Linked DNA regions of Homo sapiens: regions 2 and 3 are each reported to be linked to region 1. Evidence: microRNA targets listed by miRTarBase, many of them from high-throughput screens and not tested one by one. Region 1 holds a microRNA gene; each other region holds the end of a gene's coding sequence.

Region 1 (5,225 bases):
TCTAACAGCCATGATTTCTTTTCAGACAACAACATATTTATAATTCATTTGCAACACTTCAACCAAACTAGACATACAGAGGATGTGGGAGACATAGGTTTCTCACTTCATTACTAGCATGCAACCCATGCAATCAAACATCTGTGCCAGAAGTAGATTTTAGGTTACTTTGTTATGGAAATGCATTCTCCATTTTAGTAGCATTTTTTTTCTTAATTAGAGGAAGTGCTTTCAGAAATTGCAAATTACATAATGTAATTACAGCCATTTTAATGAACTAAAGCAAGTAAACATCAATATAATTTTAAGATATTTAAAATTCTTTATAGTTTTTTGCTTATCTTTCTAAGTTAGGGCTAGTAGTAATAACTACCTAAATAATTTGAATCCCTTGAGAATGCAAATGTATTAGGCTTGGTTTTCTGTTCACCTGAGTCAAAAAACCTGTGGATCAGAAATAAGTCTGGTAGCTAAAATTCCTGTGGAAGTTATAAAAGGGTTGTTTTTTATCAAAATATAAGATTATCTATGTAAAAAGGAACTAACCAACCGGTTAAGTATGTTAATTGGAATTTGGAAGGATTTGAGAACTGGAAGGGAGAGAACTAAAATTGTTGACTAGTAACTTTGTAAAGCCCTAGACAACAATCAACCCATTTCATCTTTACATTAAAAATAATTATCATTAACTGAGAATATACTATAACCCCAGGCATTCTGCAAAAAATTTCACATGCGTTAACTCATTTAACTCTTCCAAACCCTTTCAAAGAAATGTGTATTATCTATTTTTTCATATTTTAAATAAAGGAAAGTAATGTATAGAAGAGATAAGTAATGTGTCCAAGACCTTAGAACTTTTCAGTAACACAACTGATTATTAAGCACAGGCCTATAAAACTCCAAAGTCCTTGTTTGTAGTCATTGCTTCATGTTATATGTCACTTAGAATGCTCCTTTAATGAATAACTACATTAAAACATAGAACTGATAAATAAGGCACCCTCCCCCCAAAAGATTACTCTCTATCTCTCTCTCTCTATATATATATATATGTGTATATATACATATATGTGTATATATACGTGTATATATACATATATGTGTATATATACGTGTATATATACATATATGTGTATATATACGTGTATATATACTATATATACACATATATATAGTATATATACTATTTGTACACATATATGTGTATATATACATGGTTTTCTAGATATATATGCATGACAGTGAATTATCTTTGAAATTTAATTATTCCATTAAAATGGAATATATGCTTATAAATCTTTCTGGATTTTGTAATTTTGTCTTCATTTATTTTGAAGAATGCCTTAAATCCAAACCCCCTTTTGCTAGAGATTTATGCCTTTTTGTAAAAGATAGATATTGTCAAACCTAGACCAGAACTATATTTGGGAAAGAGGGTTTGGGAATGGATCTAGAAAGTGTAGATCCATCATATTTTCCACTGTCATCCCTGGGGATTTTCAAGGATTCCATCAAAAGTTACTCACTGGAGTCCAAGTTGTCCTAAATGTTCTCAAAACATATACAGTTTATGAAAATAAACATGCAATAAATAAAATCTCCCTGATTTCTTCGAATTGGTTAATGAATAGCAGAAGACAATCTTCTCATATATATTAATACCTCCAAAATTTGTATAACTAGAGGTCATTCTCAAAGTGAAACAATTTTCTTGTGTGTATAAAGGTGGTACCATATCCCTAGATAGATGGCATATTAAGCCCTAGGGTATTGGAACATATTGTTATAGTGGCTCTTTGGCTGAATTTTGCCTGCAGATAAATTTTGTTTTGGCCTAGCCAACAATTTTTAAACTTTATCATTTGAATACATTTTAAGAGTGAGTTCCAACTTTGCTATCTTTTCTACCACTCCCCATCTTCTTATACCCAGCTGTCCTACCCACTGATATTACCTACCTGGTCCCTAAAAGTGTTTACATTTGTGATGGGCATCACAGCTGTGAGCACAGAAGAAATAGCTTTCATGTTGATACTCCACATTCACCCCTGTGCTAACAAAGGTCCTCTAGCCCTCTAGAAAAAGTACACTCATTTTCCCCTAAGTACTTCTAGAAGTCACCAGTGGTTCTCTCGTGTGATCATGAGCAAATCAATTTTCATCATGCACTGCTGCAATTATTCTGGGCTTTCATGGAGCACACATGTATCCACCATCACCCGTCATCATTCATAGTATCTGCTGGGCATTCATCATCTACCACTGGGCATCCATCATCTCCCATTTGGCATTCATCATCTCCCACTGGGCATCCATCATCTGCCACTGGGTATCCATCATCATTTGCTCGGCATCTGCTGAGTACCGCCATGTCTGTTGGGCATCCACAGTCTCCCACCAGGCATTGTGGTCTCCGCTGACGCTTTGCCATTTCGCCACCGGTGCCTTCCATGAGAATGCTGGTTACTTCTCCAGAGTGCTGTCACCCGGGGCTGCCAAATCTACAAACCCTCAAGATACCAGGTGTGCTGCATTTGCGTCAGTATTCATTGTACTTAGCTGTGTTCCTTGCATAAATTAGGAAAATGCCCCTTTATAACTGTGGCACATTTTGTTATCTAAACATTGAAAAAGCAATACTTGTCCCTGTCCCCTTCACAAAGTCCCTCTGTAAAACAGCTATCTCTGTTTTATCTTTCTTTGTTACTTATGGTTATCATCCACAGGGCTTACATATTCCACAGGGCTGATCTTGAGTCTATACACTGATGCCTTAATTCCTGTCCTCAGGCATTCACCCAAAAAACATCCCTCTGAAAAGCTTAGCAGGTAACTTGTCAGCCTTGTGTACTTGTATATACCTAGCATCTACTCCTATATCTGGTCTTTTTCTTTTTAATGGATAGATGAAGGCCTCCTTCCTCTTTGCAAATCAGTTCATGAGGTGATATTCTTGGAAATTCCCAGGCCCACATATCTTCACCTGTGAATCATTACTTTGGGTTTGAAATGTCTTCTCCCAATATCACTTTTCCCTTTAACAATATCCTTAATCACTTCACTGCGGGATCTTTATCCTAGAGAAAAAAATTTCTTTACCGGGTAAGTTTCCATTCTAAATACAAAAAGAATAATGGTATCAGTATATTTAAATTATAATGACATATGTGGAAGAATACAGTCCAGAGGTCCTGATTTTTGTTCTTATATCTAGAGTCTTCTACCTCTGGTTATCCTTTGCTGTTTCTCTCTTCTATCCTCCTTAGAAATGTACAACTTTGGCTGGGTGCGGTGGCTCATGCCTGTAACCCCAACCCTTTGGGAGGCCGAGGCGGGCAGATCACCTGAGGTTGGGAGTTCGAGACCAGCCTGACCAACATGAAGAAACCCTGTCTTTACTAAAAGTACAAAACTAGCTGGGTGTGGTGGCGCATGCCTGTAATCCCAGCTACTCAGGAGGCTGAGGCAGGAGAATCTCTTGAACCCAGGAGGTGGAGGTTGCGATGAGCCGAGATCGCACCATTGCACTCCAGCCTGAGGGCAACAAGAGTGAAACTCCATCTCAAAAAAAAAAAAAAAAAAGTAAAAGAAATGTACAACTTTTACATATTAATTACTGGTTTAATTCCCCAATAAATGCACAAAATAAATAAATAATGTAATTGTAGTTAACATTCCAGTTCTGGTTGCAAAAATAATTTCACTACAGGCAGATAGGCAGCACTGTCAAAGCTAAATAACAACGGCCAACACTTGAGTTTTTGCTCAGGGCCAGACATTGTTCCAAGTATTATACATGTACTATCCCTATTTAATACATAAAGAAAACAATGCACCAAAAGTTTAAATGCTATCAGTATTCTACTGCCAACAATGGGACGCACCTCCTACGTTTTCTTCCTTAAGAGGAGACATCCTCTGTCTTCTCAAGAAAGATTAGAATTCCCTCTGTAGTGTCCAGTTCTGGTGATTTGAAGATTCTCCTCATTTTCCTTTTTCTTCTTAAATCTCACTCCTTCATGGAATCAATCTTTCTTTCTTTCTTTCTTTCTTTCTTTCTTTCTTTCTTTCTTTCTTTCTTTCTTTCTTTTCCTTCCTTCCTTCCTTCCTTCCTTCTATCTTTCTTCCTTCCTTTCTTCCTTCCCTCCATTCATCCCTTCCGTCCTTCTCTCTCTCTTTCTTTCTTTCTTTTTTCTTTCTTTCTTTTTTTTTCTTTCCTTTCTTTTGACAGAGTTTCACTGTGTTACCCAGGCTAGTTGTGAACTCCTGGGCTACAACAATCTACCCACCTCAGGTTAACAAAATGCTGAGAATACAATCATGAGCCACCATGCCCAGCCTTGGAAACTTTCAGTGATTTTTATATTGTCTGCTAATGTGCCAATTCCTAGAGAGCTAAGTTCTCAGTCCTTACTTCATGAACTTTTCCCTCAAAGCCTGTATGTCTATGCCAAGAGCCTTTTAACTGGGTTGAATGATGGTGGTGAAGGAAGCTATTATAACAAGTACTATAATAGCTAACTTTAATTGAACACTTACTCTGTCCATTTATCTTATTCAATCCACACAACCAACATATAAGTATTTTTCCCACTTTACAGATGAGGGAAATTGAGGTATACAATTTTACCTCATTTTAGGGCCACAAAAGGCTAATATCCATCCTCACATCACTGGTATTAAAGGTCCCATTCTCCCAGCTAGCCAGAGTGCTATTTCTGCCACCAACCCATGGAAATGTTGAACATACTATGTTCCTGAAAAACAACAACAACAACAACAACAAATATTGATTCTTGCTTGATGTCTTGATATGGCTCTAGAGACACAGAGTAACATAACTAAGGAAATAGTCTTTTGTATATTTAAGGGTAATTTCTCCAAGCCCTACCATAATACTAATAGTTAATAGTTATTGTGTACTTATTAGTACTGTACATGGTCCTAGCTGATACACACTGTTTTAGAACTATAGCTTTACTCAAAATAATTTTATTTCAGTTCAGTTCAGACTCTATTAACACCTGCCTAAGACAGTTTGAAGGCCCAGATTGCAATGCCTCTGCTATCATGCAATTAGAAATGGAATTAAGGAGAAATGGGAGGGGTCATGATATATCTTCAAAGACTTGAAGGATTTTCATACTCATACGCTTCCAAAGACAAAAGCAAGATAAATGGTAAAAGATACGGAAAGAATCAGCTTAGGGTTCAATAAAAGC
Region 2 (5,225 bases), not on the chromosome of region 1:
CTCACACCTCTGATGGTCATATCCCCTGCCTTCTCTGTAGCCTGGGTCATCCACTTCTCCAAAACGTAGATGTGGCAGATTCTGGGCGGCCTCAGCACTCTCCCACCTCCCCAAGACTGTTCAGTTCTAAGTGCCCACAACACCTACCTCAGACATCTCTGCCTTTGATCAGATTCTCGAGACAGAGAATCTGGATTTGTTTGGGTCAGATGTGTCCATCCCTCTGGTCTGCTCAGCTGTGGACAGGGTCACAGCCACCTTGTCCCCAGTGTCTCATCAGGGACGTGGGTTGAGAAGGAGAGGCTGCCAAAGAAAGGGATGTGAGCTAGACAGGTCCACCTGCGTGTCCGTTGCAGCCCCTGCCTGGCTCTTCCACCCCATCTCCTCTACTGCATTCCCCATCCTTCATCCTAAACCTCCAACGCACCCTCAGCTCCACCACCGGATGACCTATCATCCCACCTATGCATGCACCGCACACCATCCCCACCCTCCTCCTCCTGCCAGCACCAGCTACAAAAGTCACTTTGTATCTCTCTGAAACTGTCCTTGACTTCCCAGGCCAACCGGGCAGCCATCATTCCTTCCTCCACGATCCTGCTCTCTTGGTACCTACTCCATTACAGCAGTGATCACATATAGCATTATTGTCTGTCTACATGTCTGTGTCTACCCTCAAATATAAGTACTTGGGAGGTGAGGATTAGATATTTTCATCTTGGTTCTCAGGTTCAATATGGCTCCTGGCAAAAATAGCTGTTCCCCAGATATCATGTGGGTGGGTATGTAAATGCGTGAACACATGAACGTAGGTGCCCTTCTCTGCCCTCAGAGGCTGGGAGGCCCACCGTGCATGGCGTTGGCATAGGTGGGCACGAACTGGATTGTTTTGCTCACCTGTGCCCATCGTTTGCTGCTTTCTCTCCCAGACGGGGTTGACCGGACCTCCACCATCTAGAAGCTGAAGACGAGAGTGACCGCGCTGGCCGTGAAATCGACTGCTGCGGGTCCAGTGTCCGCCATCTTCAGGGTTGCACAGAATCCTCCAAGATACTTTGCAGCCTTTTTTCCCCCTGGTCCCTCTCCCGTTTTGATTTTGTGAGAGCGTAGGTCATCCTCGTAAACATATCAGTAGACCTGGGGTTGGTTATTTTGTCATTTGTTTCTGTCATGGGATGGTTTGGTGTGTGGGGTGGGGAGGGGTCTCTAGGGAATTATGAGACTGGGAGGGGGGTGGAGGGAATGCAGGTAGCTCTCTGGATGGAACGGGGACAGGGGAAAGAGTACTGCCATGAAAGAGATAGGAGACACATAAGAGGACAGCAGAAGCCCTGGCCCTGGGGAGGCTTCTCGGAAGGCCTGGCTTCACAGGCAGGCCACAGAAGGATATCGCGGGCACGTGCACCCAAAGCAAGATAGTGGCTTCCCTTTTATATCCAATCTAATCCTGATTGGATGTCCCTGAGGCCCCTGCTGGAAACAGCCATAGGAGAGGGCCCATGGCAGTAGGGGAAAGAAGGAAGAAATTCCCTGCAACAAAACTTCAGCTAAACTTTGATTTGTGTATTGTTTACATAATAATTTTAAAGGGTACATAATGTGTAAAGAGTTTGGATAGAACCTCTCTTCATACTATGGTTTTCGTAAAGGATCTGTTGTTGTTACGGATTCATTTTTTCCCTCTATTTTTATAAGAGCAGCAGAGTTGTCTTCTCAAAACGGCTGCCAAGCTCTGCTTCTTGGGAAGATGGATGCAGTCATGTAGGCCTGAGCTGTCCGTCTTTCACCGTTAGGTGGGAGGAGCGTATGGGTGGACTTGAAGGACATGGACGTGGCTGGAATGAGCACAGCATTGGGTGAGCGCACAAGGATGAGGACATCATGTGATCAGTTATGGGTTTGCTCGCAGGGCACCCAGAGATTCTCAAAGAATCCTGCAGCCTCTTTCTGTGCTGGATTTGCTTGTCACGGAGAGGCCTCCCTCCCTTTCCACCCCACCCATGGGGCATTATCCTGTCACTCCCAGCCTTGCTCCACACACACACAGGTGGGTACAAGTTCCACTGGAGGAGAAAAGGCAAGGATGGACTTTTTCCCCTTGTGAGAGGTTTGATACCCAGAAAATGAGCTCAAAACCTTTACATTAGGGTTGCTTGTAGGAACTGGAGCCTGGAGGCTGCATCTACTTCACCTGTCACTGCTGAGGGAGAGGAGGGGAGAAAGGCCCAGCAACAGCGTACAGAGGGGTCAGTCAGCAAGTCCAGAGAGCACATGCAGGGAGATGTTTGGCCCACACCGCACAGCCCCGCCATCTCCAGTGGGCGATGAAAGATGTAGGAAAGGTTGATTTCAAGATGGAAATGACAGCGCTATCCGCACAGTATGAATTAGGGATTTGCTGTGTTAGTTGATTTATCCATCCACACAGAGGGGAGGAAAAAGACACTCGTTACTTGGTGGGAGATTGAGAAACTGTGGTACCTACCACAAAGTAATAGCTCTGTTTATGAAGGGCAAGAAAGGCTACATTTCAGAATTTGACACAGTGGAGGGTATTAGAGGAAATCAAAGAGGAGTTGTGTGGAAAATCAGGTTGTGTAAATGAAGGTATGAATGCTCAGCCAGAGGCAAGATCAGGGAGATGGTACAAGGCCTGTTTGTTACATGGATGAGTCGGGTGCCTGGTTGTGTGTGTGTGTGTGTGTGTGTGTGTGTGTGTGTGAAGTCAGAGTTGAAATTCAGAAGATCAGACTATGGAAATCACTGCCCTTTTTTTTTTAAAAGCTAATGAACTACATACAGACCTAAAAGGCCTTAATGAAATCCGAACAATTTTCTTTTACTTTCAAGATCAAAAACATGCACCCAACCCAGCCTTGGATGCCACCACCAGGTTTTTGAAGCCCTTTTGAGTCTAAGAAGGTGAGAACAATGTAACCATAGAAAGCCTTTCGTGAGCAGAGAAGGCTTGAATCCACAATTTCATTCGCTGAATTAAAAAAAAAAGGTTCAGACCTCTCCTTGGGTGACTAAGTTCTAAAGATGCAAATCCATGTGCAGAAAGAGATGGCATTTTTTAGTTGATTATTTTTAACCAAGTGCCATTAACATTCATCCCCCACATCCCTTTTCTAAACAAGCTTAGTGTTACTTGGGGAATGTGTTGGGATGGACGATCACATGTAAGGCAGGAAGAATAGGTCAAAGGTTGAAGGCCAAAGGTAAGACCAGAGGGTTTGCGAATGTGGGTTTGTAGGATACTGAGAAAGTGAATAAAGAGGAGAAAAAACCATGGTATTACACATCTTGCTGAGAAAGGAAAGCATTCGGATCTGCTGCAAAAACACATATATCCATAAAGACTCATGTTATTCAGAAAACAGATTGTGAACACAATCACATTCGCATGAATCCTTTAAAAGGAAGAAGACCTTAAAGTATCTGCAAATCTGAATTTCTATTTATTCCTTCACTGAATATAGAAACAATGGTTATCTGATTATTAGAGATATTATTTTGGATATGTTACTTATTAACTTGCTATGGCTGGTAACCATGATAAAGTCTGTTATTAATAACAACATAATTCTTTTTTTAAAGAAGAAAAGCTTATTTTTCATTGACAGTGTATAGATTTATCTACTTAGTTGTGTTTTGCTATTAGTGTTTTAATTTTTTTTTTAAGTTGAGTGTTTGATAAATTTTAAGACCCTGTCCCCACCTTGTTTTGAGTCCTGTGTTGACTACAGGTATATAGCTCAATTTAAAAATCCTAAAGCAAAAGAATTTTATTTATAAAAGAATCAAACAGTTGCATGCATGAGGCTGTGAAGTCAGATATTTAGTAATAAAAGCAGCAGTGCCTTTTTTTGTATTTACCCATTGACCCCCACCAAATGCAACTGTTTTATATTAAGAAAATAGTAACAATTTTAAAATCTCAGAGTAAAATCTATTTCACTACATGCTTTTCCCCCCTTGTTCTGATTTAAGCAGTGTGTACTTGGCATCTCTACATTGTCCTAGGGACAGTGGTGTTCTACAATATTATCATGTATGATGTTTTATTGGTGCTTTTTATTCATAGTGGCTTCTTACCAGAAACAGTAGGAAGAAACACATGAACTGTGTACAAGACATGAAACATTGCTGCTGATATGTTGTTTTTTCACATGCTTTTGAGTTTTCACTTTTTAAACGAGAGCCAGCAAGCAAAATAGATGTGGCTGGGTCTGCCTGTCCGGGCGGCTCTTTGCACCGAGCTCTCAAATCCTGTGTATTGAGGGTTCCTTTTTGGTACTCAGGATTGGAGCTACAGCTGGGCCCCCCTCTCTCCCATTCGTTTGAAGAGACACTGAGGGAAACAAGGGTTTCTTTTGAGGTGTCCTTGGCTGCCTTTTACGGGATGGGAGCCTTCTCCGGATCTTTTGTTCTTCTGCACCTCTTGTAGCTACTGCCGGTGCAAGGTTGTAGATGTTATTCCCCAGGAGCCTGGGCTTGGGGGCTGAGCTGGGCTGAATGCAAAAGCATGCAACCAGAAGGCGGGCAAGGGGAGGAAAAGCAGGCCTGGCCTCATTGGTCCCCTGGAGATGTCTGTAGCAGTCAGCTCCAGCTTGGGCCTGGGGAAGCAGCCTGACCAAGGCGCTCAGGTGTGCCTGTTACAAGAAGAACCTGCAGAAGGATAATTTGCACATGGAGCTGTGATAACACTAATGTTGATTTTTTTTTTTTTTACAAGTCATCAGAGATGTTTGCAAAGTGAGTTTTATTTTTTTGTAATTCCTTTATCTTTACTTAAAGGTGAATGTGTATTCCTCTGGGAGGAATAGGAAGAAAACAGGAATGTTAATAATGTCGAACAGAAAACTTCCTCCCTTATTAATATATAATCCTCATGTATTTATGCCTAATGTAAGCTGACTTTTAAAAAGCTTTCTTTTGTTGCATGCCCTGTGCAGGCATCTGTATTGTACATGCATGCCTTTCGTCCTGTTTTCCTGTATAAAGTTAGTGAACAAAGAAATATTTTTGCCTAGTTCATGTTGCCAAGCAATGCATATTTTTTAAATTTGTCATATATGGAAAGAGCATGTTTGTTACATGTAAAAGCTTTACTGATATACAGATATACTAATGTTTGAAGATGCTGTTCTTTGCAAGTGTACAGTTTTCAAATGTTGTTACCAGTGAAACACCCTTGTGGTTTAAACTTGCTACAATGTATT
Region 3 (5,225 bases), not on the chromosome of region 1:
CTGAGGGCACTTTGGACTTGCTGAATCCTACAGTTGCATTTGTCAAGCATGGCAGGGGACACACTTAGAGGCACGTACCCTGAGGGAGCGGGAGGGCACCTGGTGAGGAGCCGCAGCTGCTGCGAGACAGCCCCCGCCCCTCCTGCGGGAGGTCTGTTGTCTGATTCTTTGCATGAGGGAGGGAAGCCCGTGCTGTGTGGGCCCTGCTGCTCCCATGCGTCCGCCACACATGCATCACACGGTAGTAGTCACTCCTCCACACCTGCCTGGGACCCGTCTAACCTCCTGGTGGCCACCTGGGCCTCCACCCTAGACTCAGAGCTGCCCGCTTAACCTGCGCAGGTTCATGGCTGTGAACACGGGGCTGTGTTGGCTCCATCTATTTTCTTTTTCTGAAGAGTTTTAACTTAAATTGCAGGCATGATTTTCCCCTTAAAATTTTCAGTAAGCCTCTCTGAAGAGCATGGGCGTTTCCCGCATGCCTGCAGCGCCTGCACCTGAGTCTGGGCTCAGGGAATGCTCAGGGAGCCTGAGGCCAGTGTCCTGGGGGGACAGAGCCATTGCCATTGTGTCCCACGCAGGCTGGAGGCTGTGGACGGGGGCCAGAGTGGAGTGCCGCGCGGCGGGCCTCTCGGGAGGCTGTGGAAAAGGAGCTGGGAGCTCTACAGCAGTGCTGGGAGCGAGACGGTGGCCCGGCCCAGCCCCATGGGCCACACCGGCTGGTGAGACGAGAGGATGGGGCAGCAGGGGACCGGGACCTGCGGGCAGCTGTGGTGATCAGGACGCTGAGGAGCCAGGAGGCCTGCCTGGAGGCGGTGCTACGTCGACTACAGGGACAGTGTCGGCAGGAACTGGCCAGGCTGGTGGGAGCCCGCCCTGGTCTCATCTGGATCCCGCCACCTGGACGCTGAGGGCCTGTCGACGGGCCCTCGTGTGGGAAGCCTGCCCTGGCCCAGCCTGGCTGGGTCTTGGAGGAGCAGATTCCAAGGCCAGGTGGCCGCAGGGACGATGCAGATGCAGAGCCCACGTCACATGCTCGCTCCAGGGGTGGGGCTGGGCTGACTCTGGCCGGATCCCAGGCCTGTGGCTAGCAGCACTGGGGACAGGAATGGCTGGTCCCTTGAGGAGGTCGTGACAGGCTCAGCCTGGTGGTCTGGAGGGGACTCGGAAATAAATTGTAGCAGCTTTCCTGCCGCTGGCCCTCCCCCTGCCACCCTGTCGGGTTTCCCTGTTTGGGGGTGGGAGCGTGGAGGAGCCCCTGGGCAGTGGTGGCCAGTGTAGGGCTGGCCAGGTGCTGGAGGACATGCATACCCCAGCACTGGTGAGTGGCAGGACCACGGGGAGGTGGCACAGGCCTCCCTGGAGCGGGATTATCTCGGCCCCGCCCCCCTTCATTTGGGCTCCCGCTGTGGGCCTGGCCCTGGGCTGTGAGCACAGCTGCCCCCACCTCCGGCCAAGGCTGTGCCTGGTGGGTGCGCCGGATGGGAGCCCGGGGCTCTGCTCCTTCCCGGGAGGTGGTGCTCCGGGTGGGGAGGCACAGCATGGACAGAGGGGCTTTGTTCCAGAGGCTGCTCAGCAAGCTCAGCTCATCCCTGACAAAGAGCCATCTGTGTCCGGGGGACGTGCCTCAGCCTGGCGGAAGGAGGGTCGGCCTCATGGCACCCCCCCCGCCCCCCACCAGCAGACACAGGTGGCCCTGAGGCCTCCAGCCCTGCCTGCCTTGCCGGGCTCCCCTCTCTTCTGGGGCTGTCGGACTCTGACCTGAGGTGGGCAGACGATGGGGCTTGTGGGGCCACCTCCAGGCTCCTGCCGGCCCTGCCCCGAGGCCACGTCCATTCCCCCTGCCAGAACATGCTCTCACTGGGGCATGTGCCTGAGTGACAGCACACACCTGGGGCTCCAGCTCCAGTCTCAGCCTGTCTGGGCCTCCTTGGTCCCAGGGGTGGACACGCCTAGACCGCCTGCCTTCCCATTCCGGTGCATGGGACCCAGGAGCACCGGCAAGACCTGGCCGTGGCCAGCAAGGCCTCCCTTTCAGGAGCACCTCTCTGACCCTCTCATGCAGCTGGGCCTCCTGTGGGCCACCAGGATTTGTGCAAATGCTCCCTGGCCTGCGCCACCCTCCGGCCCCTCCGCCAGCTCCTCCTAAGGGCTCCTGCCACCTCCACCTGCTGGTTCCAGCTCTGTTCCAGGCCCTCAGACCTCAACCCTCCTCCACCTGCAGCCTCTGAAAGTCCCCCGTGCTCTCAGCAACCCTCGACTGCCGGACAGGGCTCTTCTTGGGCTGGGAGCAAGTCCACTTGAAGCCCTGCTTTTTATAAACTGCCACAGAACCAGGACTCTCACGGGCCTGGGGGACTTGATTTTTACGAGCACAAAAGCAGGCTTATTGTCATGGAGTTGTCACCTCTCGATGTGATGCGTGAATTCAGGGCAGTCCAAGTCCTGGGTGCGCGTGTGCCCCCATGATGCTGGCGGTGGAGAGGGCCTGAGAGGCCAGGGCCTGCGGGAGGGAAGCCGGCAGGGTGCCCTAGTGCTGCCCGTCATGATGGAGCAGGGATGGGACCCTGGCCTTCAGCTCTAGTTGTTATCACACATGCAGTGGCTCGAGTCGCCTGAAGTCACGCCCTCTTGTTCTGTGGGTCGGGGGTTGCCAGTCCACAGGGTTAAAGCTGGATGGGCAGGCAGGGCTGTGTGGCCCCCAGCTCAGAGCAGGCATGGAGGTCCTCACAACACTGCCTCTCTGACACTCTCCTGCCTCCCTCCCCTGCCTTCAGGAGCCCGAGTCATCCTCAAGACCCCCATCCCCTCTGTCCCCATAGACTTCCTGTCTTAAGGCCAGCTGCAGCTTTTCCCTTCTGTCTTGCGACCTGCCCCAGACCCACGGAACAGCCTGGAGGCCCACGGTGTCGGCCTGGCTGGGGCAGTAGGGCCCTGCACCCTGGACGAGCCAGCATCTGTGTAAGGACAGTGCAGTTTGCTTCCCAGGAAGACAGAGGCGAAGATGGCCTCACAGGAAACAGCAGAGGTCACCTGGCGCGTGAGACCAAGTGCGCTTACTGGAAGGTGCAATAAACTTCAACAAAACTAGAAATTTTTTTTTTTTTAAGACAGAGTCTTGCTCTTGTCACCCAGGCTGGAGTACAGTGGCGCAGTTTCGGCTCACTGCAACCTCCGCCTCCCGGGTTCAAGCGATTCTCCTGCCTCAGCCTTCTGAGTAGCTGGGATTACAGCAGTGCGCCACCATGCCCGGCCAATTTTTGTATTTTTAGTAGAGATGGGGTTTCATCGTATTGGTCAGGCTGGTCTTGAACTCCTGACCTCAGGTGATCCACCCGCCTCGGCCTCCCAAAGTGCTGGGATTACAGGCATGAACCACTGTGCCCGGCCAAAACTAATGTTTATTAAGAGGTGGTGCAGCTGGATGCAGTGGCTCATGCCTGTAATCCCAGCGCTTTGGGAGGCCTGGATGGGAGGATTGCATGAGCCTGGGAGATCAAGACCAGCCTGGGCAACATAGGGAGGCCCCACCACTACAAAAAATAAAAAAAGCAGCTGGGTGTAGTGGCATGTGCCTGTAGTCCCAGCTACATAGAAGGGAGGCCGAGACAGGAGGATCGCTTGAGCCTGGAGACCAAGGCTATGAGGCCAAGTGAGCTATGATCTTGTTACTGCACTCCAGCCTGGGCAACAGAGTGAGACCCTATATGAAAAAGAAAAAACGATTAATGAGATGGAAGTGCAGTGTCTCATACGCTTGCCTATTCTGTTCCGGCTGGCTCAGCCTTCCTGGCCTCTGCTTCCCTTTCTGCACTACTTCAGGGCTCCTTCACCTGGTCCTGGCTGACCCTGCCTTGAGGGATGAGGCTGGTTGGGACTCCGGCCAGGTCAGGATCACAACCTCTGGGGCCTGTGGTGGTCGCACCTCCCCCTGGAGCCCAGGGAATGTGTCCTACGGCCTCTGAAGTCCCGCCTTGGTTGGACAGGAGGGTTTCTCTTTTTTTTTTTTTTTTTTTTGAGACAAGATGTTGCTCTGTCACTCAGTGGCACAGTCAGCTCACTGCAGCCTCCATCTTCCAGGATCAAGTCATCCTCCCACCTCAGCCTCCTGAGTGGCTGGGACTGCAGCCTTGATCTTCCGGGATCAAGTCATCCTCCCACCTCAGCCTCCTGAGTGGCTGGGACTGCAGCCTCGATCTTCCGGGATCAACTAATCCTCCCATCTCAGCCTCCTGAGTGGCTGAGACTACAGGCGCGTGCCACCATGCCCAGCTAATTTTTGTATTTTCATTTTTAGTAGACGCAGGGTTTCACCATGCCGCCCAGGCTGGTCCCAAACTCCTGGGCTCAAGTGATCTGCCTGCCTCTACCTCCCAAAGTGCCGGGATTACAGGCGTAGGCCACCGCTCCTGGCAGGAGAGAAGTGTTTCTGAGTGGTTCCTGTTTATCTCATGGGGACCCTGACCGCTCAGTCCACACTGCCCTTGTCTACCCCATGGCCTTGGGTGTGGTTGTGGCTGGTGGCTCTGAAGTCCTGCGCCTGGGCTCAGCCTCCAGCTGTCTGTCCCTGCGTGTGAGCCTGCATTGGCTCTGCAGCCATCCCTGTCCTCAGAGTGGTCGGAGGGTGTCCTGCCCGGCCTCTCGCTGCCCTGCCTGGCTGTGCTGGGCTGGTCCCTCAGTCATTCTACCTGAAGTCACGTGGTGCCCAATATGTGCCATTCTGAGGGGCCCCATGGCCATGTCCCAGAGGGAAGAGCAAACACCATAGAGGAAAGTGCTCACAGCTGGAGGACATGGGTGCCCGCCGGGGCTCAGCCCCAAGGGGGGCACAAGCTGAGAGTAGGCAGGGCCCAGGCTTCTGCCCCCATCCGCTGGTGGGGAGGTTCTGTGGCTCAGAGGAGGTGGGTTTGGAGGACAGCTGGACTAGGTGGGTTCTGGCCCACTGGGGCACAGGATTGGCCGCTGTCTTGGTTGCGGGTGTGATGTAGGGAGCTGTGGTGGCTGGGCCCATGGTGGTTTGAGAACTGGGCAGGCTGGGGTGGGCACTGCTGCTTGGTAGCCCGGCTCTGACCTGCTCACAATCTTGGCATCTTAGTGGGTGTCAGGTGGGCAGTTGGCTGCGTGAACCTGGAATTTGGGGCTGGAGAATGGAATGTGAGAATGCAGGGTGTGGGTGGGCTCAGCCGGGGTGGGAGGCAGGGCAGGGCAGGGCAGGGCCCCAGGGT

The links. The annotated mature microRNA hsa-miR-1911-3p reads CACCAGGCAUUGUGGUCUCC and lies in region 1 at 2,399-2,418, shown strand. An mRNA with a match to its seed (bases 2 to 7 or 8) in the 3' UTR can be bound and repressed. Matches are read on the target gene's strand: a 7mer-m8 pairs with bases 2 to 8, a 7mer-A1 pairs with bases 2 to 7 and ends in A, and an 8mer does both.
Region 2: miRTarBase lists SAMD4A as a target of hsa-miR-1911-3p. Seed matches in the 3' UTR shown: 7mer-m8 at 2,680-2,686.
Region 3: miRTarBase lists TEDC1 as a target of hsa-miR-1911-3p. Seed matches in the 3' UTR shown: 7mer-m8 at 1,144-1,150.

What each region holds. Positions count from the first base shown.
Region 1 is chrX:114,760,834-114,766,058 of GRCh38, forward strand. It overlaps MIR1911 (microRNA 1911), which reads left to right and starts at 2,351; the gene lies at 2,351-2,430. All of the region lies in intron 4 of HTR2C (5-hydroxytryptamine receptor 2C), which reads left to right. The region is part of intron 3 of LOC105373313 (a long non-coding RNA gene); the gene reads right to left.
Region 2 is chr14:54,787,987-54,793,211 of GRCh38, forward strand. It overlaps SAMD4A (sterile alpha motif domain containing 4A), which reads left to right. Exons shown (of 13, transcript NM_015589.6): 13 at 930-5,225. The coding sequence ends at 958. Among named protein-coding and RNA genes, the nearest start is that of MIR4308, 88 kb to the right of the region's middle.
Region 3 is chr14:105,498,036-105,503,260 of GRCh38, forward strand. TEDC1 (tubulin epsilon and delta complex 1) reads left to right here. Exons shown (of 9, transcript NM_001367178.1): 9 at 582-1,213. The coding sequence ends at 911. Among named protein-coding and RNA genes, the nearest start is that of TEDC1, 9.4 kb to the left of the region's middle. RefSeq lists a silencer at 777-1,071.